3 separate regions of the Homo sapiens genome follow, and all the other regions are linked to region 1. Evidence: fine-mapped expression QTL. A gene starts in region 1. Each other region holds a variant in brackets. All regions are shown on one strand. Distances are from middle to middle. Region 1 holds the start of PDZD8 (PDZ domain containing 8). Region 2 has its middle 19 kb from the start of PDZD8. Region 3 has its middle 33 kb from the start of PDZD8.

Region 1 (10,964 bases):
TCAAGTGATCCGCCTGCCTTGCCCTCCCAAAGTGCTGGGATTACAGGAGTGAGCCACCGCACCTGGCCAACAATGTCTTTTAAAAAATAAAATTGCTCTATGACAGTCCCTTCAAAAATGTAATTAAAAGAAGGATAAAAATGATCACTCTCCCTCTCCACTCCAGCTATTAAGTCTTCTCATTTTCACTAATCAGCAACAGTAATGCTCCCTATTTACTCCTCCAGTACGGGTCTCAAATTCATATAACTCCAAGCCAGGCAAGTACCATCAATTAAGCACAGCAAATAAGGGGGGACTATAAACTCCACCTAGGAGCTTACACACCGAGTTTCAACCCCAAAGCTGCTACTACAGTCCATCTCTCCATCCTGTTGTTGCTCTGAGAAATGCAGCACTGGCGCTACAAGATATTCCAATTTTTCCTAACAGAAGCCACAAATCCAAAACACACAGAATTTTCCATTTTTTAAACAGTGCAGGCCAAATTAAAAGTACCTGCAAACTGAATCTGCTTGTCTATATACAATAATACTCCAGGAACACAAGCATCCGTAAGAATCTCAAATATTTGACTCCTAAACCCTAAACAGAGCTCCCCACCCAGACACTATTACTCAGACTCCATGTTTAAGATGAATTATCCACGTAGTAAAAGAACATTAGTGGTAATCTTTCTCCCTTGAGGATGGATTCTGAGGTTCATTTAAAAAAATATATTGCTATTATAATATACTATTTTAATTAAAAAATCAAACCAATTAACATTGAGGTGGATGAATGAAATTCCTAACTTGAATAAATCTGTAAACATATTGTCTACATATTATAATTCATTTTGTAAAATAAAATGTTTTACAAACATTGTAAGTTTGTTAACTTGGGTAAAATGAAATGTCAGTCAGCTGGGTCCTTAGAAAGCAACCACTTGAGCAACTTAGCATCTCTAGGTGAAACATCAGGAACTGGCAGTCCAGAGAGGCTGATTCACTTTAGCAACACGAAAAAGGCAAAATAAATGAAGGGGGAAAGAAGTAATAACAACGTTAACTGGCAAGATATTTGTTATGTAATGATTACAAATGCCAAAGGATCGTAAGACTCCATACAATTCTCTTTACTGCTTTAGCTCTACTAAGAAGATTAGATAGCTAAAAAAGAATAAACTAGGCCGGGCACAGCGGCTCACACATGTAACCCCAGCACTTTGGGAGGCCGAGGTGGGTAGACTGCCTGAAGTCAGGAGTTCGAAACCAGCCTGGCCAACATGGTGAAACCTGTCTCTTCTATTTGGAAACACAATTCTGCTCAATTAAAAAAGAAATGCCACGTGGGACAGTACCCAAAGATTTAGCCTCATGATTTACTTTTAAAAGGATCCTCTAAAATGACCAATTTAAGAAAAAAAAATCAGCTTTATAGTCATACTCTTCTCAAGAGTTCTAGGTTAGTTTGGAAAGATATCCCACATATTTACTATATCGATGGCATGCTTTTAAAAAATAAATCACTTAAGAACAACATAGTTTGTGTGTGTGTGTGTGTGTGTGTGTGTGTGTGTGTTTAAAGGTGGCCTGGCCTTATCAGAGCTGCGTTTCAACACTTGAAAGCTGTGTGACTTTAAGCAAGTTATTTAACTACTCCGAGCTCCATTTCCTCATCTGTAAAAAAAGATGAACACTAGCTAGTTTAATTTTCCCTGTGAGAAGTATGCTATATCTTAGATGTATTGTAATTCATTCTTATCTGAAACTTGAATCAGTCCCACATCATCACCAGTTTGTTTATTTATTTATTTACTTATTTATTTTGGAGACGGAGTCTCACCCTGTCGCCCAGGCTGGAGTGCAGTGGTGCGATATCGGCTGGCTGCAACCTCTGCCTCCCAGGTACAAGCCATTTTCCTGCCTCAGCCTCCAGAGTAGCTGGGATTACAGGCGCCCGCCACCACGCCCAGCTAATTTTTGCATTTTTACTAGAGACGGGGTTTCATCAGGTTGGCCAGGCTGGTCTCACACTCCTGACCTTAAGTAATCCGCCTGTCTCAGCCTTACAAAGTGCTGGGATCACAGGCGTGAACCACTGCACCTGGCCCATCACCAGTTTAAAACACTGGACAGAACAGCTACACAGACAAGAAGTCATCACTTGCTGAGGCAGCCCTTTTCATCGTCATACTTGCTATTTTCTTCTACTAAGCTAAAACCGGCTTCCTGGCTACTTCAACCCCATCAATCCCATTCTAGTTTAAATCTTACAAAGCGCCGGGCAAGGTGGCTCACACCTGTAATCCCAGCACTTTGGGAGGCTGAGGTGGGAGGATCACTTGAATGAACCCAGGAGTTCCAGACTAGCCTGGGCAACAAAGCAAGACCTATCTCTACAAAAAAAATTTTTTTTTAATTAGCCAGGAGTGGTGGCACACACCTGTGGTCCTAACTACTTGGAAGGTTGAGATGGGAGGATTGCTTGAGCCCAGGAGGTCGAAGCTGCCGTGAGCCATGATCCTGACACTGTACTCCAGCTCTGGGCAACCGAACAAAATCCTGTCTCAACAAACAAACGAAAAACACAAAAAAATTACTAAGTATAGCTAATTCAATTCTCACTAGACTCTAAGCTTCCTGAGGGCTGAGTTCAAGTATTGTTCAGTACTGAAATCCCAGCATCTACAACAAGGATAAGCATATAGCAGGTGTACAATAAACATTTACAGATTGAGTGATATGCTCTGTGCAGCTGACTGAGCATTGAGATGCCATCCAGTATAAATAGCACAGATGTGCATACTTCTGGAAATGATCATTTAATGCTTCACATTTAGAAGTTGAAATATCATAACCAAATTCATGCTGTTTTTAAAAAAATCCCTTCAAAGTGAAAAGCAATTTTGCCATACTTTTAAATGGTTGTTATTCAATGATACAGATAATAGTTTTTCAAAGTAATAAACTTCTCAATGCCTCCATAACTTATTCATAACTTACTTCAGATTTACCTAAATTCCAAGTCTACATTAAAAAAAAAATCTCAAAATGATATGTAATCTCACTGTCATTGGCTAGTCTACAAATTTCAAAATAATAATCTAGTCAAATTGTATTAACTGAAAGCTATCAGAAAACATCATAATTGAAGTTGTGATAGAATACCAAAATTTCTAGCAACTTTTTCTCATGACTTTTTTGGCAACACACTGCTATAAATAAACATCTCTCACTGCTTAAACACTAGAACCGAGTTATAATTTAATCACTGATATTCCAGAGGTTAAAAGTAGGTTTCATAAAGTATGTTCTACTTCACAGAACCAGAAATCGAACACAGTGAACAACCAGTTCACCACCCTCCGCAAATCTATGGAAATATTTCCATTACAAAGTAAATTTCTCCTGCCACGCAAGTTTTAAACTGTCACTCTGCGCTGTTAGCCTAAACAAAACATAATTGGTAAGGTACATCTGCCACATACAGAAGTCAATAATCCATTCCAAACCCAAAATATTTCTGGATTATCTTGCTCCTGAAAATTGACACTGGTAGAAAATTAGTGATCCAGAAATAGGCAACTTCCACTAAAAGGCAAGTAAAATTAGGTAAGTAAAATACAAGACTGACATAATTTTATAATAAAGGGCAAAATTTTAAAGGCTCAAATGTCTTAGTGAATACAAAATTAAAGGAGGACCGAAAGAGAAGTTAAAAATTCAGCTTTTTACAAAAGAAAAAGCACCTTCCACTCCACCTCTAGCCCTAAAAAAGTCTTTCCCCTTCCACTCCTACAATATTAAAACAAAATTTATATACTACTCAAAACTGTATACCACAAAATTTAAGCCATCAGATGCTGGAAGGCTTAAACAAAATTAAAATCACTACCTAGCATTAAAATACAATTTGTACAGTGACTTCAGGTCCCTTGAGAGAAGAACTTACAGTCACAGAGAGTAAATGCTTGATGGGCAGAGTCTGGATCTGTGTTCTACAATCTACCCAAAATGGGCAAATGACATTAATACAAAATGTAAAGTACACTATGTACAGGCTCCCAACTCCTTTCCCATCTGCTGTGGAAAGTATTCCCGGGCCGGGCGCGGTGGTTCACTCCTGTAATCCTAACACTTTGGGAGGCCGAGGCAGGCGGATTACTTGAGGTCAGGAGTTCGAAACCAGCCTGGCCAATACGGTGAAACTCCGTCTCTACTAAAAAATACAAAAAAAAAAAAAAAAAAAAAAAAAATCAGCAAGGCGTGGTGCCATACGCCTGTAACCCCAGCTACCTGGGAGGCTGAGGCAGGAGAATCGCTCGAACCTGGGAGGCAGAGGTTGCAGTAAGCCGAGATCGCGCCACTGTACTCCAGCCTGGGCGACACAGCAAGACTCTGTCTCAAAAACAAAAACAAAAAAAACCCACAAAAGTATTCCTTTGCAAGAGTTACCACCTCTGCCTTGAAAGGTGTCAAACCATCAAAGCAAAAGTGGCTTGCAATGTCAAATTAGCACAGACCTGGGCTATAAGCACACTCTTCACGCGTGTACTGTGTCCAGGAACAATTTCTCAAAGCGGCCAAGGGGATGCTGCAAAGCCAGTGACGCGGCTGCCCTCAATGCAGCAACCACATAGAGGGAGAGTTTCTCAACAGTCCCAGAAGCGACTCCTGGGGATTAGGGTAGGCTTCCCTTCCATTTCCAATATGCTGCTTATAAAAGGAGACGATTCTGCCCGCGTTGACAGCACCCTGAGTCCCCATGAACACGCGAAAAGGTTTCTAGCTCCTATCAATGCCGTTCGGAAGCAAAGCAAGTGTTCACGACTCGCCTTGATCTGGGGCCCTGTCCAGGGTGGGAAGGCCCCAGAAGCAGGCGCCAGGACAGAAATGAGCCTTTGCCCTTCCCAATCCACGCAGCGTCCCGCCCAGGCCCGGGTTCCCGGCAGCCAGGCCCCCTCCCCGACCTCCAGCTCACCTGATCTTGTAATTCGGTAGGGTGTGCTTGCGCTTGATGATCTTCTTGAGCTGGTTGACGATGATGGAGGTGAGCTGGGGCATGGGCCGCCCTTCAAACTGGGAGCGCACCTCGAAGTCGATCAGCGGGTCTTCCACGAAGGAGAAGAACCAGTGGGTGAAGGGCACGCGCGTAAAGACCAAGCGCAGCCTTCCCACCACGCGGGACAGCTTGACAAACAAGTAGGCGGACTTGCCGAAGACCAGGTCCACGTCGATGGCCAGGTGGAAGCCCCCGTTGTACTCCACCTCCGCCTCGAAGGCCAGCTCCTCGGGGCAGGCGGCGGGCAGCGCCTCCCCTTCAGGGCCATCGGGCTCCCCGGTGGCCGAGGGCACGACTGGCCGCACGAGCCGGATGGTCTTGATGAAGGGCACCGTCTCGCCCAGGAACACGTCCCGCAGGCTCAGCCCCTCCAGCAGGCGCCCGGCCGTCTTGGTCTGCAGCAGCTCCTCGAACTCCACCTTGATCTTCTTGGTGACCCAGCGGCGGGTCAGCGCGGTGTCCCGCAACTCCCGGAACAGGAATAGGATGGTGGCGTTGAGGAAGTAGCAAGTCTCCCGCGTCGGCGGGGCGGGGGTCTCGGGGGCCGCGGTGGGGGTCGCGCCGCCCTCAGGGGCCGCTCCGGAGGGCTCCTCATCCCGGCCGCCGCCATAAAGGTACTCCCTTAGGAGCAGGCCCGGCACTGGCTTGATGTAGCGGAAGCCCTCGCCCGCGCGGGCGGCCTCGTCCGCCGGCGGCTCGGGCTGTCTGCGGTACAGCAGGAAGAACTGGGCGAGGAGCGTGAGGAAGGAACCCAGCACGGCCGACGCCAGGATCATGAGCAGCAGCCCCATCCCGCCACCGCCTCCGCCCGGGCCCCTACTCCCGCGCCCACAGCGCCGCTTTCTTCACGCCGCCGCCCCCGCTGCCTCCATTTTGAGGACATCGGGCGGCTGGGTCGGGGCGAGCGGCTCCGTGGGCCTCGTCCAGGGGCTCGGGCCGGCGCGCTGCGGCGCCCGAGCCCGCAGCGGCCCGCGCCTCCTCAGACGCTCCCGAAGGGCCGGTGTGGCGGCGGCGGCAGCGGGGCCGGGACCGGCGCCTCCCTCAGGCCTCCACTCATTGGACGAGCAGCGCGTGACGTCAGAGGCGTGCTCGCTCCCGGCGGCGTCGCCCAGCAGTCGGCGCCCGGGCACGCGGACGCGGGTCCTCCTTTACTTCTCTGCGGCCCTTCCAACCTCGTCCCCCCACGCCAACATTCCAATCCCCGCGGCGCGCGCCGCCACCCACGTGGCCGTCACTTCTGGAGCTGCGGTCGGGATCTGGGAGGACGGCTGGGGACGCGGGCTGGAGGATAAGGCGGTCCGGCGGAGCGGGCCTGACGCGTTCCGGATGCCGGCCATCCCGTTATCCTCGGCTGCGCCCATCCCCCGTCTCTGGCCGCAGTCCCCGCGGTTACCTCTGCAGCGGCGTCGCTCATCCTGCGGTGTGCTTCTTCCACTCGCACCCGTGACAGCCCGGCTGGCAGCGGCGCTTTCCCTGCGGGCAGCACCGCAGACGATCCGAGCGGGCCTTTCGGACGCTTCCCAAGCCCACGGCGAGAGGGGACCGACTGCCTCAGAGGCAGCCATCGCGGACCTGCCGTCCCCCCGGCAGACGCTCTGCGTCCGCGGAGGGTGGGCCCTGGGAAGGAGGGACGCAGGGAAAGGGCGCGCCACGCGGAATGACTTTCCCACCGAGGTGGATCTTCGAAATTTCAGGGAGGAGGAAGTTGAAAGAACAGCCAGGAGGAGAGATGCATAGTGAAACGAGTTTGCCAAGTGATTGGAAGATTAATATGCGACCCGCTGTCAGTCTCTGGTTAAGCCGGTAGTCCATCTATGAGGCAGTTATTCACTGTTAGCCCCCACCCACTTGACAGATGCCAACACTGGTGCAGAGAGCGTGGGGAGGTTGCGTGGGGCCGCAGAGTGGAGCCTGGTTTATCTAACACTAAACCCTAATGTCTTGATCACTACTCTCTGCCCTAACACAGAAACTGCTTCAGTTGTAAGCAGGCCAGTGGGTTCCCTAATGTTCAGGAAGGGAGAATTGGGGAGGCGGATTAGGGAAGACGGCAAGGAATTTTGCATAGAGTAGCACCTTAACCAAAGCCACGAAGCTAAGCCAGGTTGCCCAGCAACAGCGTTACTCCTCCTGCCCTCTGACTACTTAGTGGTTACATCATAAATGCTTATCCCTCCAAGCACGTGGAGTTCCAGTCCTGCAGGAGTCAGATATCCCATACCTTAAAGGCCGATTCTGGCTGTACCTAAGGAGCCAGGGCAGGGCTCCTCTCTAGCCCTTGAAAACCTTCAAGCCGGCCGGGCGTGGTGGCTCACGCCTGTAATCCCAGCACTTTGGGAGGCCGAGGCGGGCAGATCACGAGGTCAAGAGATCGAGACCAGCCTGGCCAACATGGTGAAACCCGTCTATACTAAAAATACAAAAATTAACCGGTCGTGGTGGTGCGCGCCTGTAGTCCCAGCTACTCAGGAGGCTGAGGCAGGAGAATCACTTGAACCCGGTAGGCGGGGGTTGCAGTGAGCCAAGATCACGCCATTGCACCCCAGCCTGGGCGACAGTGCAAGACCCTGTCTCAAAAAAAAAAGAAGAAAACCTCCAAGCCAAGGATTCTCTTAACTGTAGGTGATTCTACCACAAAAATAGACCTGACCCAGCTGGGACAGGTACAGAACTTCGGAACCAGGCTTATCATGCCTTACCGAATCATGCCCAGATACGAAACCAGAATGGCTTTCATTACTATGAAGACATAAGATAGGTGTCTGCTGAGGAACCATGCTCAAACCATGGCCGAGATTTTTCGGAGATCTTGGCAACTTCTGTTCTCTGGTCCCCTTTGGTTCCTGGCCTCTGCTTCTGGGCTGCTCTCTGGGATCTACACTGTTTCAACTCAAATGAGAAATGTAGACCCTTCTATGATTTCCACCGTAAACCTATTCATAACATTCATGCACATTGCATATTATAAATGTTACAGAAGCTGGAAGTAGGGTGGCATGAAAGAAGTTATTCACATTCCTGAAATATAAAACCCTCAAACTGTATATTGATCCATCCCGAGTTGCAAAATATTCTTCACCCACCTCCCTCCTCAACAATGAAAGTTTGTGGTCTTCATGGGAATGAGTCCTCAGTCTTCATCTTGCAGACTCCTTTCTTTTCTCTTCTCCTCTCACTTCTGCGCTCCTCAGAATACCTGTGAGAATCTTAAATCTTCTCAGTTTGTTTTACAGAGTCAGAGTCATTGCATTCCCCAGCAAAACTTGACCCCTTAGGGACACACTTCAAATCCATGAAAGAGCTCAGCAAACCTTTTGGGAAGAAAAAAGTATTCTCCCTTGTGTGAAACATGACCAACATTGATTAAACACTAATAATAATAATACAGAGAACTGACCATGTGCCAAGCACAGTGTTAAGCATGTTATTTAGAAATATTTAAATATTTCAAACATTATTTAGAAATCAAAATATCATGAGTTTTTGTAAAGTCAAATATGCAGTCATGCACCATAGAAGGATGTTCTTGTTAACGACAGACTGCCTATAGGATGGTGGCCCCATAGGATTATAGTACCGTATTTTTACTATGCCATTTCTGTGTTTAGAGATGTTTTGATACACAGATACCATTGTGTTATGGTTGCCTACAGTATTCAGTACAGCAACGTGCTGTATAGATTTGTAGCCTAGGAACAATAGGCTATACAATATGGCCCAGGTATGTAGTAGGGTTTCCCATCTAGGTTTGTGTAAGGACACTCTGATGTTCGCACAATGATGAAACTGCCTAAAGATTCACAACTTATGTCTGTTGTTAAGCCACACTTGACTGTGTTTGATAAGTTAGGAGATAATGCTCTGGATAATATTGGTGTTAGCATGCCCTTTATTTTATGAAATTATACTATGTTAATAGAGACGAATTTGTTTTAATGCTATTTTCTGGAAAAGGATAAATTCAGCAACCCCTCCCTTTTTTTCTTATATTAATGCTGGTTCATAGAAACTCAAAAGCCTGAGAACCACTGGCCCCAGCTCTGAAGATCGATGATTCTGAATAGGTTTTTAAAGGAAGCAGTTGTGCTTAGCCTCCCTGCTGACTTTTTAATGTGTTTTAAATGACATCATTGAAATTAAGCTGCCCCAACAGCCTTCATGGAAATATCCATTTCAAGGTCGAAGTCAGTTGAATACTGGAAGATGGGTTGCATATAAGACATTCTCACCAACTAGAGGGATGCATGGACCACTGCTTGACTATGAATCATTCCTGGTGACCGCGAAAAATAATGAGAAAGCCAAACCACGTAAATGTGCAAAGTTTGTGAGTAGCATGAAAGCAAATTTGATTTTTTGAAAGATGTAAAATAATGCAAATATAGTGAAATATGGTGGGAAACATAGAGTTTATAAGGTTTGCCTAACAAATGATACATCAACAAACCATTTTGTGAACTGGGAGAATTCAAATTCCACAACTATTTTTTGAGCATCCAACAAGTACTAGGCTCCAGGGATACTGAATGAACAGGGGCGCTGCGCCCCAGGTGGAAGCAGACACACATCTGCATAACTCTGATGATAGGAGATAGTGCTCTAATAGAGGCACATGCAAGGTACTATGGGAGCAGAGCCTTCTGGTTCAGGGGCAGTGACAATTGATTGCAAGGAACAGCAACTACCTCAGGCTAACTTACAACTAAAATTGGATTCACGTTAAGGATGCTGGAATATCTCCAGGAACTCAGCTGCAAGATGTTCATAGAAATCCTAGAGTAAGAAAACTGTCTCTCACTCTCATTTCCTCTGCCCCCACCCCTACCCAGTATCTTATTTCTGCATCTCCCTGCAGGTCTGTGCCATTTTACTCCAGAAGGCTCTTGGTTTCTACTTCCCCATTACCCTCAGCACACAGGCACTTTGGGAGGCACCAGCTCTCTATCCAGATCTAGAGGGTCCTATGTCTCTGATGGCTAAGGTAGCCTGCAAGCTCAATCTCAAATCCTGGGAGAGAAATCTCCAATTGGCTGTGCTACTCCAATAATTTATGACCAAGGAGCTTGCCTCTTCTGGGCTGCTGGTGGGTGGGGCAACTTCTTCAAGGACTGGGAGAGGATTGAGAAGACATGATGGGCAATACTAGCTCAATAGGGGATAAGAGATTAATTCTTGCTGGGGAAGGTGGGAGGCTTTTGGGGCAAATGGAATTTGCATTGGCATTTAATGATTAGAAGGGCATTCTAATCAGAAGGAGACAAAAACTCAGAAGATGGAAACCCGCCAGTTTGGGGAAATTGAGACCAGGATGACTGGAAGAAGGTAGTACGAATAGGTTGGTGCATCAAGGAGAGAAGGGAGATGGAGGTAGCATAATAAAGTAGACACAAACTAAATTATGGAGAGATTAAATGTCAGGGCAAGTTTTTATTCTATTTTGCAGTTTTTGTGAAGTCTTCAAAGGTCTTTAAGCTAGAGAATGGCATTAACACTTTTCCTTCCATCTCCACCTGCAAAACCTCAACCCTAAATGAATCCAACTATCTACCTCCTCCCCTCTACATTATAAATTTATGGTCTTCGTTCTTATTAAGGCCCTCAAGGAAACCCAGACATTTTTCTCCACTACCACATTTATCCATTTTTTCTCCATTACCAGCATCTTCTTCCATGTCCCATAACAATGCCATCAAACCTTGACCAGGCTCAGCTCTTTCATCATGCTCAGGGGAGGACCCTCCTCCCACTTCAGGGAGAAAAAAAGAGGCCCTTAGGCTGGGCTTTCCTCCGCTGCTTGCTTCCCTGGTCCAAGCTCACCTGCATGACACTCCCATGTTTTCATGCTTCTCTTCTGTGGCAAAAAACAACCAAAAAACAAAGCAAAAACTTTTTTGTCCAAGGGTAACCCTGATAATCCC
Region 2 (10,964 bases), 20 kb after region 1:
GTCACAGAGTTTGCTCCAGCCTGCCTGAGCTCTTGTGCTTCCTCCTGTGCTGACTTCTTTCTGGTATCTCCAGGCCTTTGCACATGCTGCTTCTTCCACCTGAAACTCTCTGCCTCTTCTCTTTGCAGGTAACCCTACCCTTAAAGTGTAGACTGAAATCTTCCTCTTTAGGAGACTCCCCTGGCCCTAACCAAGGCTTATCCCTTGCTATATCCTCATATAACATCCAATATATGTTCCCTCATCCTGGTGCTTATGGCAGAGACTGCTACTTGCTTCGTCCATATCCATTCACTCATTTCAAAGAAGAATTTGGGAACAGCAAATTGTTCAGATTTTAAAAATGACATTTCCCAACCAGCCTTGCAGATAAGAGTGGCCAATGAGATATAAGCAAAATTTTTGGGTGGGAGCTCAACAAAGGATTTTGATTTATTATCTCCATATCTCTTTTGTACTTCCCTCTCCCTCCCCTGGCCTGGAATTCAGATGTGATGGCTGGAACTTCAGTGGCCACTTTATAATCATGTGGTAACCTTGAGGATAGATGCCACACACTGAAGATGGTTGAGCAGAAAGACAGAATAAGCTCAGAACACTGATGACACTGAAGCTGAACTCAACTTTGCAATACCCACCTTGGAACTTTTTTTTTACATAAAAAAATTCCCCTTAAGCTGTCAAACTACTATTACAGGTCTCTGTTACTAGCAGCCAAATACACTCCTGACACAGTATTCACCACACTTTACTATCATCACTTGTACAATGTGTGTCTTGTAAACCACAGTTTCCCAGCACTCAGCACAGGGCCTCGCCCATAGTAAGTACTCAACTGGTATTTATTAAGTGAATGAATTTACATGACCTACTCTCCACTTTGGTGAGAAAGAGCCACCTTCTCCTGAAGCCCTAAGACCACTTGTTTGAAGGAAGAGGCTTTGTAGAGGGGAGCCAACACTGACACCAGAACGTCCTATCATGCTGGGAGAGGAGGGATCACTGCTGGCTCTGCTCCTCTGGCAAAGCCAGGGAAGGTAAGTAACTCTGGAAGAGAATAACATTGCTGCAGCAGCAACATGCTTGGAGATGGCAAGTCCTTGAGACTGCCAGTGGATCTAAATCTACTGTGTGGAGATCAGTGTAACTTTTGGGGCCCAAGAGCATATTCACCTCATCTCTACTTTCATTCAGTCCTTAGGTGATCTCATCCAGCCTCCTACCTTTAAATGCTATTCATATGTGTATGCTTCCAAATGCATTTACTCACTCTGAGCTCCTCTAGGAAACCCATATATCCAACAGCCTACCAGCCATCTCCACCTTGGTGTGAGATGACTTACTGTGTGTAAGACTGAGCGAATATCCATCCCATGAGAGTTCCTTGGGCATTTCCCGCCATATTTATCAATGGTACCTCTGTCATTCCAGTTGCTCAGGCCAAAAGCCTTGTGCTATCCTTGACTCCTTTCTCTCTTATCTGCATTCACACTTGCAACACATCCTATTGGTTTTACCCTCAAAATATATTCAGAGTTTCACCACTTCTCACCGCATTCACTATCATGGTTCAAGCACCATATTTGGCCTGATTATTGGAGTGGTCTCTTAGTTGGCCTCTCTACTTAAAGGTCTCTCTGGCCTTTGCTACCCTAATGTCTGTTTCAACACAGACACCACAGTGACCATGGTAAACCACAAGTCGGATCATGCCACTCAACTGTTTGAAACGTACCAGTGGTTTCTTGTGGGGGGGCCCAGAATAATGGCCCCCAAAGTTGTCCACATCCTAATCCCCAAAACCTGTGGATATATTACGTTACGTGGCAAAGGGGCGTTACTGTTGTGGGAGGAATTAAGGTTGCTAATCACCTGATCTTCAGATAAAGAGATTATTCTGAATTATCCAACTGGACCCAATGTAATCACAAAGGTCCTTAAAAGTGGAAGAGAGAGACAAAAGAGAAAGTCAGACTGATGCAATGGGAGAACGATTCAAACTGCCACTGCTGGCTTTGAAGATGGAAGGGAACTAAGAGTAAGGAATGCAGACAGCTCTAAGGGCTAGAAAGGCAAGAAAATGGATTATCCCCTAGAACTTCCAGAAAGTGAGGCAGCTCTGCCAACATCTTGATTTCAGTCCAGTCAGACCTGCTAGAGGTCTGACTTTAGACCTCCAGAATTATAAGATAATAAACTTGTTTGTTTTAAGCCACTAAGTTTGTGGTCATTTGTTATAGCAACTGCAAGAAACTAACACACTTCCCCATCTCATGCGATGTAAAAACCAAAGTCTTCATAGGGAAGTCCAAGGCTCCAAATGTCTGGGTCCCCGTTACCTCTGTCTGCAGTTGTGTCTCCGGCTTTCTGCTGCATTCACTCTGCACCACACCGCCCCTTGCCACACATCTTTGTAGAATGGATGAATGATTTTAAAACTTCACTTCCAGAGGACAGAGGAGAGGTGACTTGCCCAGGGTCCCCCAGCAGGGACTTGAACCCAGGACTCCAGCCCTGCCACAGTGGGTTACCATGTTTATTGTACTTAGCTTTCACTTCAGCCTCCTCCCCAAAAAGTCTGTGGTTAAATCTCCCCAGCCACCTACTGAAGTGCTTGAATTCCCTCCCAATGAGGAAATCCCTGTTGTAATCATATCATTCCTTGCCATAAGAGTAGCTCATTTCCTGCTGTATGAAATTCAGCATGGAAACATTTTCCCTGTAAATGGCAGGGGAAGAAATTCCCAGGGCATCAGATTGTACTGATCAATACAGGCAAATTCTTTAGGAGGAAAAGACAGTCCTGGCTTTCCTTCAGCCAAGGAGGTTTACTGGGTGGGTTCCTGTTTATACAGGAACAGGATGGAGAGTGAGCTACATAGAAACCTGGATGAGATTCTGAGTATTGCTGCCAACATCAAGCTCCACTTTTGCTGACTTATCATTTATATTTGCAAGTGAGAAGGTTTGATTGGTTAACTTGCTGCCACTCAGAGGAGGGCCCCCCGCTGGACCTTTGTGTGGAGTCACCTCAGAGCTGATCAGCCACCCTCGTGTCTGGCACATGTGTGTTGTAAGCTCTTCCCGAGACTGATCTCTGGTCTGGTCAGCTGTTGCCAGGACAGCGGAACTGGCTTCTCCTGTAAAGCTTGTGCATACCAGCCTGGCAGATACCACAGGCATGGGTTGCTTAGATTCTTTTGTCTGCCTAACTTTGCTTTTCTTTTCTTTTTTCTTCTCTTCTCTTTTCTTTTCCCCTTCCCTTCCCTTCCTTCCTTTCTTTTTTGAGATAGAGTCTCACTCTGTCACCCAGGCTGGAGTGCAGTGGCACGATCTTGGCCCACTGCAGCCTCCACCTCCTGGGTTCAAGCGATTCTCTTGCTTCAGTCTCCCGAGTAACCGGGACTACAGGCGGCCGCCACCAAGTTTTGCAATTTTTGGTAGAGATGGGGTTTCACCTTGTTGGCCAGACTGGTCTCAAACTCCTGACCTCAAGTGATCTGCCCGGCTCGGCCTCCCAACGTGCTGGGATTACAGGTGTGAGCCACCGCGCTGGGCCAACATTCCTTTCTTTTGAAAACTCCCCTCTTCCCTTCTAGGCTGTTCTGAAGTTCTCAATTCCAGGCCCACCCCTTGGCCTTAAGGATAGGCACATGTCCCAGGTCTGGCCAATTTATAGCACCTGATCCCTCTGACAACAATGATTGTTCTAGAGAAGGTGGGCATGTGACTGAGCAGGGCCACTCACAATCTAACCCCAAGATGAATGTACAGGCTTAGGGAAAGAGACACTCTCTTTCTGCTGGGGTGCCTAAACTGGGAGAACATGAACCTGAGGTCACTCAGTGGAGCATGTCTGTTTGTGCAGGAAGCCAAGCAGGATTAAGCAAAGATGAGAGGCAAATGGAGAGATGGTTCTCTATGCGGTGAGTTCCTGAGCCAAGGGCTATGGACTCTTTTTTCTGTTGCTCTTTTTTGGCTTCTCTGAGTCACCTACTGCCCTTCCCAGCTATGTGAACCAACACATTTTCTTCCTGCTGTATAGCTGGTTTATATTGTGCTTCTGTTATTTGCTCCCAATTGATTTTGACCAAAATAGGGGCTTAGGTAGGAAGAAACTGACTGTGACCACTTGCCACAGGCAAGAAAGACTTAGAACCCATTTATGAGGAGATTAATGCCACAATTCCCTTATAGGGATCTTTGGAAGGACTGGCCTGGCCTGGGATATCCTTACAATGTAAGTATATATTCAACTCCTGAATGTGCCTAATGAAATCTGATCCTGTTATTCCCTGTCTCCTTCAGTCTTAAAACACTCTGATGGTTTCCCGTAGCTGTTAAGACAAAGATCACAATCATCAATGGGCCTGCAAGGTCTGACCTCCACCATCTGGTTCAGAGGTCTGAAAACTTTTTATTAAAAAAAAAAAATCTACTTTTTTTTTTCTTTTATCTTCTTTTTAAATTTTTTTTGAGACAGGATCTCATTCTGTTGCTCAGGTTTGGAGTGCAGTGGCGTGATCACAGCTCGCTGCAGCCTCGACCTCCCAGGCTCAAGTCATCCTCCCATCTCAGCCTCCTGAGTAGCTGGGACTACAGGCTCATGCCAACAAGCCCAGTTAATTTTTTTTTATTTTTAATTTTTCAGGAGAGATGAAGTCTCTCTATATTGCCCAGGCTGGTCTCAAACTCCTGAGCTCAAATGATCTTCCCACCTTGGCCTCGCAAAGTGCTAGGATTGCAGGTGTGAAACACTGCCCCTGGCTGCAAACTTTTTCTATAAAAGGCAGACAATACATTTTCTAGACAGCATTCTGAATTTCTTCCCACCTTTGTGGGTCATAATGTCTCTGTTGCAACTACTCAGCTCTATCATTGTAGCTGAATTCAGCCCATGGGCCATAATTTGTTGACCCCTGGTCAGGAATGGTCGGAACCTTTCATCCAAACACACATCCAGCCTCACTGGCCTTCTCTCAGAATCTTCGTATTCCCACCCATAGGCTCCCTCTCCTCATGGGGCCTCTATCCAAGCTATTTTCTCAGCTTGGCTATTCTCCCAAATCTGTGTATGGTTAACCTTACTTACCACCTGGATCCAATGACAGGTTTCCAGGGAAGTCTTCCCTGACACTCTGAGACTGGGCCAGATTCCCCTAGCACATACACACCTTCCTAGCATTCTCCATCTCTCCTGTATGGCATTCACCATGGTTGTAATTTTTAGGATTTTCATGTTGGTTTGCCCTCTGTCTTCCTACTACGTAGGGAACCCCATAATGATGAGGCACTGTCTTTTTTTTATTACCTAGCAGAGTGCTTAGTACATAATAGGAGCTCAATATATATGTGATTGAAGAAAGAAAGAGAGGGAGAAAAGAAAACAGGGAGAGAAAGAAGGAGAAAGAAAGATGGAGGGAGGGATAAAGAAGGAAAGAAGGAATCAGCCCTTTGAATTTACCTGTTCAATGACTGAGAATGAGAATTCAAAGTAATAAAAGTAAATGGAATATTTTTCTTACTCATCCATTGCTGAAATCAGAAGAACATGAAGAATTGGTAAAAACTGGCACTTCTCCCTACCCATTCAGACACTTGGTAGCTTTTGGTGCTTGGGTGACATCAGATCTCTAGTCAGACTGGAATCAGGAGGCCTTCTCCTTGCCACTCTTCCTCCCAGCACCTGGACCCTCCCAGTTGCGATCATGTGTCCAAGTTCCCCACAGGGATGCCCATCAAGGTCACCTCTCTCAAAGTGCCTTTTCCCAAAGTTACTCAGGCCTCCTGGGATCAAATCCCAGCTCCAGGACTTAGGGGTTGTGTGACCACGAGCCAGTCATGGAAACTCTCCAGGTTTCTGGTTCCTCTCCATAAAGTGGGGATACCATTAAAAAATGGGCAAAGGATATGAACTGACACTTCTCCAAAGAAGAGATACATGTAACCAATAAGCATATTAAAAATGCTCAACATCACCAATCATTAGAGAAATGCAAATCAAAACCACAGTGAGATACCATCTCATACCCGTCAGAATGGCAATTACTAAAAAGTCAAAAAAATAACAGATGCTGGTGAGGTTGTAGAGAAAAGGAAACGTTTATACACTGCTGATGGGAATGAAAATTAGTTCAGCCATTGTGGAAAGCAGTTTGGCGATTTCTCAAAGAACTTAGAACTACCATTCAACTCAGCAATCCCATTATTGGGTGTGTACCCAAAGGGATAGAAATTGTTCTACCACAAAGGCACAGGCATATGTATGTTCATCACAACACTATTCACAATGGCAAAGACATGGAATCAACCTAAATGCCCATCAATGGTAGTAGACTGGATAAAGAAAATGTGGTACATATATGCCATGGAATACTACATAGTCATAAAATAGATTAAGATCATGGAGCTGGAGGTCATTATCCTATGCGAATTAGTGCAGGAACAGAAAACCAAATACCAT[A/G]TGTACTCACATGTGGGAGATAAACTATCACAAGTGGGAGATAAAGATTGAGTACACATGGACACAATGAAGGTAACAATAGACAACACAGCCTACTTGAGGGTGGAGGGTGGGAGCAAGGTGAGGATAAAAAAACTACCTATGCTTATTCCCTGGGCAATATGCTACCTGGGTGATGAAATAATCTGTACACCAAACCCCTGTGACATGCAATTTACCTGTATAACAAACCTGCACATATACCCCAGAACCTAAAATAAAAGCTAAAAATAAATAAATAAATAAAGTGGGAATAATGACATAGGGTTATTGGGAGGATTTAATGGCATAATATGTAGAAAGTACTTAACACAGGGCCTGGCACATATTTAGTGTCAATAAGTTAGCTATTATTAGTTAAATTTTTAAAAAACTCTATCTGATCATCTGATTATAGCAGTCAGGCTCATCTTCAACATATGTGGGGCCAGGGCTAGAGTACAAATGGTCTAAATATTTAAAATTATAACTAAGTGGCATGCGTTGTAGTCCCAGCTATTTGGGAGACTGAGGCAGGAGGATTGCTTGAGCTAAGGAGCTTGAGGCCAGCCTTGGCAACATAGGAACCCTATCTCTATTAAAACAACAACAACAACAACAAAAATTAGCTGGGCCTGTTGGCTCATGCCTGTAGTTTTAGTTACTTGGGACACTGAAGTAGGAGGATTGCTTGGGCCCAGAAGTTTGAGGCTGCTATGATTGCACACCACTGCACTGCAGCCTGGGTAACAGTGAGACTCTGTCTCTAAAAAAAAAAATTAAAAAAAATAATAATAACAAAATAGAAAATTATAAATCAAGCTGCAAAATACATTTTTTCTCCCCCTACATTGACAAATACGACTTCATAATGGAAATTTTCTTTTTAAGTTGGAAAACTATAGTTTTTATCTGACTGAAAGTCTACAAAATATCAAGAATAACTGAATTCAGGTATTACTGTGTACGTGCTATTGATGGCCCAGAAATATTTGAATGAGTGATAAAATAAAGACATATATCATGAGTCATTACATATTTCATAAATTTTTTTTCTTTCACAGCAAGAAAAAAACTAATTATCTAATTGCAATTAAAGTATGCAAATAATTTACATTCCATTGATATGATCCAAAAGATTAAAACATAAAATTATATTCAAAAAGTATCAAATTTTAATATATTTCCATCAAAAATGTAAAATGAAAGTAAATGTAATAGTTAAAGTTGAATATTTTTGAAAAAAATTTTTAAAGCATGAAAAATATTTACATTAAAAGGCAAAGTAGAGGGTCGGGCATGGTGGCTCATGCCTGTAATCCTAGCACTTTGGGAGGCTGAGGTGGGCGAATCTCAAGAGATTGAGACCATTCTGGCCAACATGGCGAAACCCTGCCACTACTAAAAATACAAAAATTAGCTGGGCGTGGTGGCGTGTGCCTGTAGTTGCAGCTACTCAGGAGCCTGAGGCAGGAGAATCACTTGAACCCAGGAGGCGGAGGTTGCAGTGAGCCAAGATCGTGCCACTGCATTCCAGCCTGGCTACAGAGTGAGACTCCATTTCCAAAAAAAAAAAAAGGGTTAGGCGAGGTGGCTCATGCCTGTAATCCCAGCACTTTGGGAGGCTGAGGCGGGCGATGGTTCACCTGATGTCAAGAGTCCAAAACCAGCCTGGCCAGCATGGTGAAACCCTGGCTCTACTAAAAATACAAAAATTAGCCAGGCATGGTGGCAGGTGCCTGTAATCCCAGCTAATTGGGAAGCTGAGGCAGGAGAATCTCTTGAACCCAGGAGGCGGAAGTTGCAGTGAGCCGAGATCGTGAGATTGCACTTCAGCCTGAGCAACAGAGCGAGACTCCGTCTCAAAAAAAAAAAAAAAAAAAAAAAAGGCAAAGTAGAAATTATAAATTAATGAGTGTAAAAATTATAGATGAAATTATTTCAGTAAAGTTACATTTTTTGTTTAAAATTTTAACAGTGGAGTTAAATCATAATAAATACTTTTACAAAAATAAACTATTCAGTATTCTAGCATTCACCGTTTTAACTTAGTTGCCAATACAAATAATCAGTACTACATGCACTTATTTCATGCCTAAAATTACAAATCATATCTTCAAGATGTCAATCATGACATTGGGTTATGGATAGTTGATACGTGATGGTTCTACTACAGCCTAACCACATGGTGACATTTTATTATGTGATTCGTGTAATTCATGAAGAGTTTAGGAACCACAAATGAAAGAAATAAAATGAAAAGAAAAGCTCAGCATGACAGGGAATGATACTATGCGAAACAAAAATCTGTTTTATTCATGCTCTCTGGGAGGAAGAAATTGACAAGTTAATTAATTTGCTTTTTCTCTTCCTAATGGTCCCTACCACTAAAATGCTCTCTGCCCTCTGAAGCTGTGTCCATCTCTGATGTTGGCAGCAGCAACCCAAAAACCTTTATGACCTTCAGGACAGGTAGCCTTTGTTTTGAGGATAAAAGGTAAGAAATATGGAAAAGTGTTCCCTAGGGCTTGAGCAGCGTTGGTGCCAGGAGCAGATGTTTAGGATTAGGGGTAGTGATATGCCAGTGCTGAGCACCAGGTCCCATGTGACAAAGGAACACACATGTTCTTTAAGAAGTGTGTATGTGTGTGTATTAGTCTGTTCTCATGCTTCTATAAGGAACTACCAAGAGGTCTAATTGACTCACAGTTCTGCAGGCTGTACAGGAAGCATGGCTGGAAGGCCTCAGGAACTTACCATCATAGCGGAAGGTGAAGCGGAAACAAGCATGTGTTACCATGGCCTAGCAGGAGACAGAAAGAATAAAGGGGAAGCGCTACACACTTTTAAAGCAACAAGATCTCATGAGAACTCATATACTATCATGAGAACAGCAAGGGGGAAGTCTGCCCCCATGATCCAATCACCTCCCACCAGACCCCTCCTCCAACATGTGGGGATTACAATTTGGCCTGCGATTTGGGTGGGGACACAGAGCCAAACCATATCAGTGTGTGTGTGATATTATGGGGTCACCCTTCTCTTTCCCAGGTCTGAGGGCAATATGGAAAGGAATACCCTGGATAATTGACTGATTGATAGGTCATCTGGGGTATTTGCATTGCAAATAAGCACTTCTGCGTAGTCCCCAAAGAAGCCCTGGGATGAAGGGGGCCTTAGAAGGTGGTTTTGAACTGAGAGACTTCTTGCCTACATTGGCCCTTTCTGCCCGCCACACATCAGAAGAATGAGGTTCAGCAGCTGGGCATCTCATTCTGAGCCTGCACTCTGTACACTTTTGCTAAGGAAAAGTAGAGTCACATTGGTTAAGAAAATACATAGCAATCAAGTGTCTTAATTCTTTTTTTTTTTTGAGATGGAGTTTTGCTCTTGTTGCCTAGGCTGGAATGCAATGGCGTGATCTCGGCTCACCGCAATCTCTGCTTCCCGGGTTCAAGCAATTCTCCTGCCTCAGCCTCCCATGTAGCTGGGATTACAGGCGCACGGCACCATGCCCAGCTGATTTAGTATTTTTAGTAGAGATGGGGTTTCTCGATGTTAGCCAGGCTGGTCTCGAACTCCCAATTTCAGGTGATCTGCCCGCCTTGGCCTCCCAAAGTGCTGGGATTACAGGTGTGAGCCACCATGCCTGGCCTAAGTGTCTTAATTCTTAATTACCTAATAGCAGAGTTTCAGGAGAGTACTTTGACAAATAACTTAATAATAAACATATCAGAATGAAACAACTAATAGAAAAGGATAAGATCCTGATCTTCAGAAAATGCCAACACTTTTGTTTTTCTAAGTCATGAAAGAAATCATCAAGATATACTGCTCATAAAATGTCTACACATAAAGGTACCATTTATGAGCACAATACAACAGCCTAAGCCCTCCGATAAAAACTGAAGGAAGTGTAGAATTCTCATTTTATAGAGAAGGAAATGGAGGCACAGAGAGGCTAACTGGCTTGCACACGGTCATACAGCTGCTAAGTGGCAGGGGCAGTATTCCAAGCCAGCCACGTCCAGATTGTGACTGTGTAACCACCATGGCATACCAGCCCTTTGCTCTCTTCCACCATACATCCAAAGGAATCAGATAGTCAACATTAGCAAAGAAAAATTCCGTGGGACCCCTAGCTGACCATCTTTCTTCTGTGCACCCTTCAGTTTCCCCCAAAAGACAAATAAGTCTTTTTAGCACCATGTAAACATTTAATAAGCGTGTGTTAAATTTTCAGTTACAAAGTGTAAAGCAACATTTGCAGGCCTACCTTTCCTGTTGGGTAAAAACCTGACCACTGAACCATGGACTACCTCTTCCCTCTAATTGCAAAATGTTGACTTACTTCATCTTTTGAAGACCAATGATCTTTGCAAGGTTACTGTATGTTTAAAAAAAAAAGTGCCTTCAGGGCCTTGAGTCATAAGATGGGAAAACATGTTGAAGTGTTACAAAAATATTGACAGTATCTCTATGA
Region 3 (10,964 bases), 34 kb after region 1:
ATTGCTTAGCTGGACAGAACTTTTTTCTTCCATGTTCTTCAATTGCCTCAAAAGATTATGGGGGTGGGGTTGGGGGGTGGATCCCTTTCTTAAGAGGAGGAGCAAGACTGTCTTTTTGACCGAGGATGATTTCTCACTATAACATTTAATATGCAATTCACTGATTCTAATGAACAAAACTGACATATATTTCCAATGTAATATGAAGATTAGGAATCATCTACTTGAAACTACTTTACACATCTCTATTTTGCAAAGGACCCTTCATATCACTTTTAACCACAAAGCCACTGCAGAAGGCCTTGCGTGCCCTCCCCTGCCTCCGCACCCTTGTTTCAGAGTCCAGAGGTCATATGCAAAGCATTTCGTTTGTGAAATCAAGAATTCTCTTCCCCTCTACTTTAGATATAAACTTTTTTTTTTTTTTTTTTTTTTTGAGACAGAGTCTTTCTCTGTTGCTCAGGCTGGAGTGAAGTGGCACCATCTCTACTCTCTGCAACCTCTGCCTTCCAGGTTCAAGTGATTCCCCTGCCTCAGCCTCCTGAGTAGCTGGGATTACAGGCACCTGCCACCATGCCTGGCTAATTTTTGTATTTTTAGTAGAGGCAGGGTTTCACCATGTTGCCCAGGCTGGCCTCGAGCTCCTGACCTCAGGTGATCTGCCTGCCTCAGCCTCCCAAAGTGCTGGGATTACAGGCATGAGTCACCACACCCAGTCCTACTTTAGTCATAAACTTTTTGTATTAAAGCATCCCTAACTGGGCTGGGCATGGTGGCTCATGCCTGTAATCCCAGCACTTTGGGAGGCTGAAGCGGGTGGATCATGAGGTCAGGAGATCCAGACCATCCTGGCTAACATGGCGAAACCCCATCTCTACTAAAACTACAAAAAAAGTTAGCCGGGCATGGTGGCTGGCGCCTGTAGTTCCAGCTACTCGGAAGGCTGAGACAGGAGAATGGTGTGAACCCGGGAGGTGGAGCTTGCAGTGAGCCAAGATCGCGCCACTGCACTCCAGCCTGGGTGACAGAGCGAGACTCCATCTCAAAAAAAAAAAAGCATCCCTAACTGCTCATTCTGCTGTCAAAATCGATGCGGGGTCAAAACAGAAAAATTTCAGAAGAGAATTTAGAGCTACAGCCTGTGAGAAACAGCAAAAAGTGAAAACCAAAGACCTGCTTAGGAAAACCCTCATTGAAGAGATGGGGAGGAAGGGCCTGAGCCCCCTACTCCATTCCACAATCATGTAAGTCATTCTTCTTTCTCTTGCCCTGGGGACAGAGAGAGGCCAGCAGCCTTACTCTGATGTCATTTATTTCCCATAGAAACATAAAAAGACTCACCAAAGTACTTTTTTTTTTTTTAGATGGAGTTTTGCTCTTGTTGCCCAGGCTGGAGTGCAATGGTGCAATCTCAGCTCACTGCAACCTCTGCCTCCCGAGTTCAAGTGATTCTCCTGCCTCAGCCTCCTGAGTAGCTGGGATTATAGGCATGCAACACCATGCCTGGCTAATTTTATATTTTTAGTACAGACGGGGTTTCTCCATGTTGGTCAGGCTTGTTGTGAACTCCCAACCTCAGGTGATCCGCCCGCTTCAAACTCCCAAAGTGCTGGGATTACAGGCGTGAGCCACCGTGCCCGGCCCAAAGTACTTTTAGTCAGATAATGTTGGGAAACAAGGGTCAACGTTCAATAAGCAAGGTCAGTCTGATTTCATCATTGCAGACCAGGGAGACTAATTTCCTTATGTGCATTGTGATTCTCGAGGGAGAACATGTTGTATGGTTTTCTCTAAAGGCATTTGGCCATGTAGCATTTTCTTCCCAGATCAGCTCTTCTTAAGGTTAGTGTTCCAAGGTGCAAGCTTTGAGAAATGCTGCCTGACAACTTTTACAAAAGTCTAAACCCTGGGTGTGCATGTTAATTCGTATTTCTCTATCCACACCTGGGAACCCGCCTCTCAAAGCAGTCACTTCCAAGAAGGAGGAATGTTTGTGCTGTGTAGGGCATCTGTGGTTTAATTCAGGGAATTGTCACCATGCTATTTGGCCAAAGCTAAGCCACATCCTCTAATATAGCTTTTTCAGTAATAAAGATGATATTTTTATTTCCATTTGTCTAAATACTTTGTCCTCAATTTGTTCAAAACTCAGGCAGAATTTCTTTTCTGGAATCAAAATTCCAACAGGGACTGGGCATGGTGGTTCACGCCTGTAATTCCAGCACTTTGAGAGGCCGAGGCATGTGGGTCACTTGAGGTTGGGAGATGAAGGCCAGTCTGGCCAACAGGGTGAAGCCCCATCTCTATTAAAACTACAAAAATTAGCTCGGTGTGGTGGTGTATGCCTGTAATCCCAGCTACTCCAGAGGCTGAGGCAAGAGAATCGCCTGAACCCAGGAGGTGGAGGTTGCAGTTGAGCCAAGATCATGCCACTGCACTCCAGCCTGTGCAACAGAGTGAGACTCCACCAAAAAAAAAAAAAAAAAAAAAAAAAAAATTCCAACAGGGACCATGAAGCTGGGGTTCCTCTGGACACATTTTGAAAACCACTGCTGGAGGCTTATGCAATGCCAGAATGGAGATTTTTGCCATTTGCCGGTAAAAGAAGCTGCGTGAGGCTTCCTGCCAGGTCTCTGACCCCGTGTGGAGGTAAAAGAAAATGATGCAAACAAAAGCAAAGAAACAACAAGATCAAATTAAGAACTGATGGAGGGCTGGGTTTGGTGGCTTACACCTGTAATCCCAGCACTTTGGAAGGTTGAGGCAGGTGGATCACTTGAGACCAGGAGTTCAAGATCAGCCTGGCCAACATGGTGAAACCTTGTCTCTACTAAAAATACAAAAATTAGCCAGGCGTGGTGGTGTGCACTTGTAATCCCAGCCACTCAGGTGGCCAAGGCATGAGAAATGGTTGAACCCAGGAGGCAGAGGTTGCAGCTAGCCGAGATTGTGCCACTGCACTCCAGCCTGGGCAACAGAGTGAGACTCCATCTCAAAAAAAAAAAAAAAAAAAAAAAAATGAAAACAGGCCAGACGCGGTGTCTCACGCCTGTAATCCCAGCACTTTGGGAGGCCGAGGCGGACAGATCACGAGGTCAGGAGATCCAGACCATCCTGGCTAACATGGCGAAACCCCATCTCTACTAAAAATACAAAAAATTAGCTGGGCGTGGTGGCGGGCGCCTGTAGTCCCAGCTACTGGGGAGGCTGAGGAAGGAGAATAGCGTGAACCTGGGAGGCAGAGCTTGCAGTGAGTCGAGATTGTGCCACTGCACTCCAGCCTGGGCGACAGAGTAAGACTCCGTCTCAAACAAAACAAAACAAAACAAAACAAACAAACAAACAAAAACAAACGAAAACAAAGAATGATGGAGGCAGGGAGACCTGACCAAGTCCAGGAGAGAGATGCTGGGAACCTAATCCAGGGCAATGAGGGCTAGGGAGAGGGGAAGTCACTGAGAGGCGGATAGGTAGGCAGGACTTGATGCCCGATGGCTCTGGGGCAGAGGGCGGAGGGGAGCTGAGGAAGACGTCCAGGTGGCTGACTTGGATGACTGTGTGGATGGAGCTACATGAGGAGGAATGGAGGGGGAAGGAAGGTTGTAATTTTGATCTGAACTCCGTGTCCTCAACTCTTAGGGAGAGAGGAGGAGGGGAAGCAGTACTATTGGCAATTAGTAGGAAGAGGGAAATTATGAGTACAGTGTGAGGCTTTTGAAAGGAAATCCTCTCTGGGGTTGGGGTGGAAAATTACTAAGGTGAAAAACTTGCCTAGGGAAGCTTTAAGCTTTCTCTCTAGGGGGCTGCTTTACTTCACTTCCCTTCCAGACTCACAGCTTGGGAGGTGAGATGGGCAGCTTCTCAAGTAAGAAGAGCATTCCAATTCAAGGGGTGCTTTGTCAACTTAAGTTTCCAATTGCCATTCTGTTGTCCACATGTGTCATGTTTCTTTAAGTTATTGGGAGTAGATCTGTAGGGGCTGATCCCCCTGGGCCTGCAGGAGCTGGAATATCTGAGACTTTGTCTCACTGACTTCAGCAGGTTATATCCATGAGAAGCCTTGGTTAGTGGGATCGGCCTTCCTCTAATTTCTGCACTGTCTCCCTCAAGGAGGAGCTGTAAAGATCACGTGAGATAACAAACATAGTGCACCAAATGTATTGACTGGCACTTGGCCGGTGCTGCCCGCACTAGATCTTCTTTTAATATCCATAGCCCGCAAAATGCCAGATCTTGAAAAAGGCCATCCTGGTGGCTTAAAGCACTGACCTACTTGGGTGTGACTCCTGGGGATAATAATCCCACCATCAAAAGATCATGGTAAAGATTCGAAGTGACATGCCATATAAAGAGCTTAGTACAGGCCGGGCGTGGTGGCTCACATCTGTAATCCCGGCACTTTGGGAGGCCAAGGTGGGCAGATCACCTGAGGTCAGGAGTTCGAGACCAGCCTGGCCAACATGGTGACACCACATCTCCACTAAAAATACAAAAATTAGCTGAGCATGGTGGTGCATGCGTGTAGTCCCAGCTACTTAGGGGACTGAGGCAGGAGAATCTCTTGAATCCTGGAGGCAGAAGTTGCAGTGAGCTGAGATCCTGCCACTGCACTGCAGCCTGGGCAACAGAGCAAGACTCTGACTCAAAACAAACAAACAAAAAAAAGCCAAGTGCAGCAGCTGGCACCTAGCAGTACATCACAGTGGCCATTACATTATAATTATTCTCATCAATCCAAAAGAGACTGGAGAAGGTGTGACTTCAGATGTGATAGACCAAGGCTTCACTCTATCCCAGAATATTCAAAAACAAAATGCCACAAAACACTTTTCCCATTAAAAAAAACTCCAATTGCCTTATTCACATATCATCCTTCAGAATCTATAAACAGTTCGTATTGTGGGCTGTGCATCAGCTGATCACTCACACTTTGCAAGGCTGCTCAGGAATATTCGGTAAACTCATCTTAGGGCCCAGTGGGCTGTAAGGTATAGTGAGTTAAATGGTGGCCTCCAGAAAGATATGTCCAACTCCTAACTTCTGGTCCCTATAAATGTGACATTATTTGGAAAAAGGGTCTTTGCAGATATAGTTAAGGATCTAGATCATCCTGGATTAAATAGATGACAAGTGATGAGAGAGGAGAGGAGAAGACACAGGGACAAGAGGAGACGGTCATGTGAAGATGGAGGCAGGACTGGAGTTGTGCAGCCACTAGCCAAGGAATATCTGGAGCCACCAGAAGCTGGAGGAAGCAAAGAATAATCTTCCCACAGAGGCTTAGGAGGGAGCATGGCCTTCTGATGCCTTGATTTCAGGCTTCCGGCCTCCAGAACTGTGAGATAATAAGTTTCTGTTGTTCTAAGCCACCCAGTTTGTGGCAGTTTGTTACAACAGCCGTGGTTAGCTAATTTACAAGGAACAGAAACACACTTAAACTAACTTTGAGAACCAAAAAGGTGGAGGAAGGGCACTTTCTAGGAGGACTCGAGGGAATATTATGAATTCCAAGCACAGGAAGTTCAGGCTGGCCTCATAATGGACAAGGCTCAGAACCTAGACAGTTGGGAATGGGGTGGCTGTCATGACACCTGATCATTCCTCGTTTGTCATTTCTCTCTCTCTATGCCTGCAGGCTGGCTCTCTTTGGTTCCTCACTCATGGGGCCAGTCCAGGCACCTTGAACCTGACCTGTCTTCACATCCCATTTCAAGTGCCTAAGAGAAAGGCATATGGCTCTGTGGCCTGATTCCAAATTCCAGGGAGAGAAACTCACTCAACCTTGGTCCAATCAACTCTTGCTAAGGGATGAGCTCTTGTGTCTGGAGGCCTTTGTCCAAGGGTATCTGTTGCTGTCAGATACCCTTGGAAGTTCCTACTTGAGGGCCAAAGATAATTTTGAAGGGCAGAAAACCAGCCAGCTAAGTTCCATTCAGCCACCAACTTGACAGGTCAGGGAGAATCTAACCTTCTTTTCAAATCTTCCTTCCTGCTTTAGAAAATGTCCTTAGCCTTCTAACTTTCTGTCTCTGCCAACTCTTCCCTTTGATATAACCGCATCATATTACTGAGAAGGAAAAAGCAGAAAAGCCATCCATTTAGATTTTCTTTCTGTTCTAAGCATGAAGTTAATCCACTGGAACAAAAACATTATTGATTTTTATCTGTTATAGTCTTCTCCCTGAAACAACAAATGTGTACTACTATTGGTATAATATTTGGCTTGTTTTGGATGTAGACCTTAATAAAAATTACGGTTCATTATTTTTTCATATTGCCTTTGCATGGCTCCTTTAGACTCAGTGGCACATGACACGTTTGGAAGTTGAAAGACTTTATATTTGACTATAATGCTTTTGATCAACAGAGCAAAGCCTGAAACAAAACCCAAAGCCAAACCAGGCAGGGGTGTGGGGACAACAGGAGAAACAGGTTCTGGGGAGAGTCCCTTTCCTTGATGTTCATTCAAAAATCAGTGAGAGTTTGTTGAGTGCATAACTAAGTTCTGGGCATTTAGCTAAAGATAGGATTACAGAGGTGAAAAAGCTGGACTTCTATTTCCCACATGGAGCTTATAGCCGAGGGAGAGGCAGGCAGAGATAAAGGAAAATGATGCAAATAAATGCATATTTGCAAGCTTTAACAAAGGCTATGGAGGAACAGTGCTTTGGCACGATGAGAGTGAGTATGAGCAACTCGGGCAACCAGCCTGA[G/C]GGGGCAGGGAAGGCTTCTCTGAGGAAGGCTATTTCCTTGAGATCTGAAGGGTGAGTAGGTGTTTAAGTGGGTGAAGTGGAGAGGTAGAGGTTGGGAGGTGGGGCATCTTCCAGACAAAGGGAACTTTGAGTATAGATATTCATTATGCCATTCCTGTAGGAACCCATAAAATGTAAATCTACACACACACACACACACACAGACCCACAGAATCATGGAGGAATGAGCCATCAGGCAGCTGTGCTCTGCTTTTTTTGCCATCTGCAGGTAGAAGAGGCTACTTGAGGCTTTCTGCCAGGCCTCTGACCCCATGTGAATCTCCCTGGATCATTTTAAGAGGATCCTGAAATCCTTGGTCCTGTGGAGTACCCCCAGGGCTCTCCCTGTGTCAGCCTCAACTACAGTGTATCAAGGAGCTCTCAAAAGAGCCTCAGCAAACAGAAAACAGGACACTTTATCAGAAAGAAAATTAATTTGGAGCTGTCTTTAGTTTTACCGTGTCTCTAAAGGGAGAAGATGGGATTCTTTGGGCATAAGGAGACGCCCACCTGGAATCTTCCCATCTGAGCTCTACCCATTGAGGTCTGCCCATCTGAGAGCTGCTCAGTGAGGTCTGCCCATCTGAAAGCTACCCATGGAGGTCTGCCCATCTGCCAGCCCAGCTGAGGGTTGCCCATCAAGATCTGCTTATCTGAAATCTGCCCATCTGAGGTCTGCCAGCCCTTCTGAGAAGGCCACCTGGAGGAATAAGTTTATCATCCCAGGAGCAGGAATCAACGTGGGATAAAATAGAGGACATGAGCAGAGGGCACCTGGCTTCTCCCCAGGACACCTTCTTGGCCGTTTCTAATGAACTGCTCCTTTCTGTGTGTCGCAGGACTTGGGGTGCACCTCTCTATCACAGCCTGCTATATAATGCTTTACCTACCTGTCTGTCTCCCCAAATAGTTGCTGGGTTCCTTGAGGGACTATATCTTTTTCAGTTTCTGTTCCATGCCTACTGTCTGGTATCTACATGATCAGCATTCAATCAATATTTCTTAAAGGCAGGAATACATTAATTATTAATTTTTACTCTGCTATCAGTCCCCAGGCATTTTGGGGCTGAACAGTGTTACTTAAAAATAGGTAAATGGGATTAAATTAATGGTATTATTCACATGGCCTTGCACATAGCTCAATCATGACATGTCGAATGGGCGGTTATCAATATCTCTGTGTTAATCCTCTGAAACTTACATGTAGCACAATTTATTTCTTAATGGCATTGATTTTGTAACAAGGCAGCATTTTGGGGGAGCATTCACACATCCCTAAGCTGATTATTTCAGTGAGTCAGAGATCTTTTCAATTACCATTCTCTTTGTACATAAGAGTCTATATTTCTGCCCCCTCATTAAAGAAAGGATGTTGGTCCTTTGGTTGGCACCAACCGTTGTAGGTCAGGACAATTTTTTATTTTTATTTTTTGTATTCAGGAAACAAAGGCTAAAAGTCCTTCAGCAATGGCAGTTGAGGTTTCTGTATCTCCTCCTTACATAATGAGTCCTGCCAGTTAGGACTGCACGAGGTGGGAGGAGGTGGCAGCTAGCCAGGAAGGCCTGTGGCATTTTGATAAACAGACATCAATATTTATCAGAGCTGCTCCGGTGTGCTTCCTTGGCTGCAGGAACAGGGAGCCCTCCCTGGGCTTGTATATTGTTTTCTCTGTATGAGATAAATGTTTGGGGCCATTAAAGAAAAAAAAATGTTTGTACTCTGCTCCCCAGTTACCTAAGCTAATTTACCTCACTAGGAGGTCTTGTAGTTCATTAATAATATACAAATACAAATCAAGGGAAGAAATTGCCTTGTTAATTGACTTTTGCGATGGTAATCTAAGACTCATTGACTTTAAACATTGCCCAACAACTGTGTTTATACCACACTGGAAGGATCAACTTTGGAGAATGCAGAAAGCTACCCAAAGCAGATACTTGAAATCATTGCTGCTTGGCTTTGTAAACAGACACCCATCTCCATTTGTTCTCTTTAGGCATCTGGAGGTAGAAGACAGAAAAGAGACTAAGAGCGGGGAATAGACTCAACCATTCTAGAATACAGCCCGGATGTGTTACAGGATCCTGCCCTGGAGTCCTCGCGCAATCAATGTTTATGCTGTGCTCTGCTGGGCTGTGCTGGGCTGGCCTGGGCTGTGCTGTGCTGTGCTGTGCTGTGCTGTGCTGTGCTGTGCTGTGCTGGGCTGTGCTGGGTTGTGCTAGGCGGTACTAGGTGTTGCTAGGCTCCTGCCCCATCACAAATGGTTGCAACAAGATTGATTAGAAAGGGTACCATTAGATTCAGCTGACTGGTTCAATTAGGAGAAAGGTTCATCACTCTTAACACATCAAATCTCCCCCTATGTCAGTCTTTCACTGACATCAGGGGCTGGGCTTCTGTCTCCTCTTCTCTTCTCTGATCATTGCCTGTGCAGAAGACATGGAACTTTTGTCTGTTCATTAATAGAGTCCAGTGGTAAGTTTTCCCAGGCCAGCCCTGGTGGTCAAATGCTCTGGATTCGATGCCTATCCATTCTCTCCTCACCCTGCAACCACCGGTCCCCAATTCCTACAAGTCTGGAGCTGGTTTCAAGTTCATGAATGTGACCTAGAGAGTAGCAACCTCCCAGCCTCCGGCATAACCCATGTTCTCTCTGACTCTGCTTGGGCCACGTGGATAATAAATCTGGCTCCTCCTTGAAGCAGCCACTCACCCATCAGCATGGGCAGCCATGCAAATTTTCCTGCAGATTTCACAGGGGAGACAGAGCAGTTTGTAAGTTGCATGCTCCACAGCACACAGCCTTAATCCCCTTGTTTGATTTTTAAAATTCTCCCCAAGGCGCACCTTGATTGCTTTGCCTCTGGGACTCTTCCTTTCTGACCTGGCCCTTTGACATCTTTTAATTCCTCTCATTCATGCCTTTCTTGATTAAAAGAAGAAGAGAAAAAAAGCTAGATCTGGAGTGTGAAGCTTGAGATTCTTTTTTTCTGTTCTGTAAAATGGGGATGATAATAATTCCTACCTCATAAGGTGAGAGGGAGAATTAAATGAGAATTAAGTAAATATAAACTCTAAAGTAATGTTTTGCAAATATGACCCATGAAATCAATTTAATGGGTTGCTACCTGCATTAACATGAAGTAAAAAAGAATAGAAAATATCAGAGTGTATTGCATGTAGTAAGCATAAGTTTTGTGAGTCTTTTCTTCTGATTTTGTATGTGTATGTGCATGTGTGTGTATGTGTGTGTGACCACTGGCAATGTAAAATGGACTCTGCTGTGAGTTATGGTAAAAAAAAAAAGTTTGAAAAACATTTCTCTAAGAGTTACATGGTTTAGGTATTTGTCGTTAAAATTTGTCTTCAGCTTTGAAGTTGAAAGATCATTGTTGAAAAGATCAGAGATCCTCATTTACCCCCATTTAGGAGATGACGTGACCTCACACAAAAGACACAATCTGGCAGCCTGGGGATCTAATTCTGTTCAGGCAATTTTTATTAGCTCACAAACGTTTATTTTAAAAATTTGATCACGCCTGTAATCCCTGCACTTCGAGGGCCAAGGCGGGTGGATCACGAGGTCAGAAGATCGAGACCATCCTGGCCAACAAGATGAAACCCCGTCTCTACTAAAAATACAAAAATTAGCTGGGCATGATGGCGTGTGCCTGTAGTCCCAGCTACTCGGGAGGCTGAGGCAGGAGTATAGCTTGAACCAGGGAGTTGGAGGTTGCAGTGAGCAGAGATCGTGCCACCGCACTCCAGCCTGGCGACAGAGTGAGACTCCGTCTCAAAAACAAAATACAAACAAAAAAAAATTTGAATTAATTAGTATCATTTGAAAAGCAGGAGGTTGGATATAAACATCTAGATTTTTCATTTCTCATGGAAATTTGGAGATTTGGCCACATCATGTATCTTTCCTCATTTATCTCCTGTCTGGGCTCTGGAAACTTGCCAGGCTTTGACTCTTGGATGACTGTATGGGGCACAGTTCCTGCTCCTTCCTTGCCCTGGAATCTTTCTCAATCAATGTTTGTTTTAAAGAATCACAAAGCTGGAACGTCCCTACAGGTTCTCTGGGTTCAAACCCTCATTTGTCAGTGGAGGAAAGAGGATTAGGGAGGAGGAGGTGACTTACCCTATGTCATGTGGATCACCAGTGATGTGGGTGGGAAAAGAGCCCAGGTCTTCTTCCTCCTGGTTTA

What was found. PIP is the estimated chance that this variant, and not a neighbour inherited with it, causes the effect.
Region 2: its variant is fine-mapped to the expression of PDZD8 in whole blood (INTERVAL, PIP above 0.99). The same link has a PIP of 0.9 or more in neutrophils.
Region 3: its variant is fine-mapped to the expression of PDZD8 in esophagus mucosa (GTEx, PIP above 0.99).

The regions. Positions count from the first base shown.
Region 1 is chr10:117,369,391-117,380,354 of GRCh38, forward strand. PDZD8 (PDZ domain containing 8) reads right to left here and starts at 6,050. Exons shown (of 5, transcript NM_173791.5): 1 at 4,966-6,050. The coding sequence starts at 5,837. RefSeq lists silencers at 5,541-5,720, 5,821-6,140 and an enhancer at 6,371-6,490.
Region 2 is chr10:117,389,003-117,399,966 of GRCh38, forward strand. No RefSeq gene overlaps it. Among named protein-coding and RNA genes, the nearest start is that of PDZD8, 19 kb to the left of the region's middle. The variant A/G (reference allele first, on the strand shown) is at 6,464.
Region 3 is chr10:117,403,331-117,414,294 of GRCh38, forward strand. No RefSeq gene overlaps it. Among named protein-coding and RNA genes, the nearest start is that of PDZD8, 33 kb to the left of the region's middle. RefSeq lists cis regulatory regions at 5,617-5,975, 8,098-8,586. The variant G/C (reference allele first, on the strand shown) is at 6,714.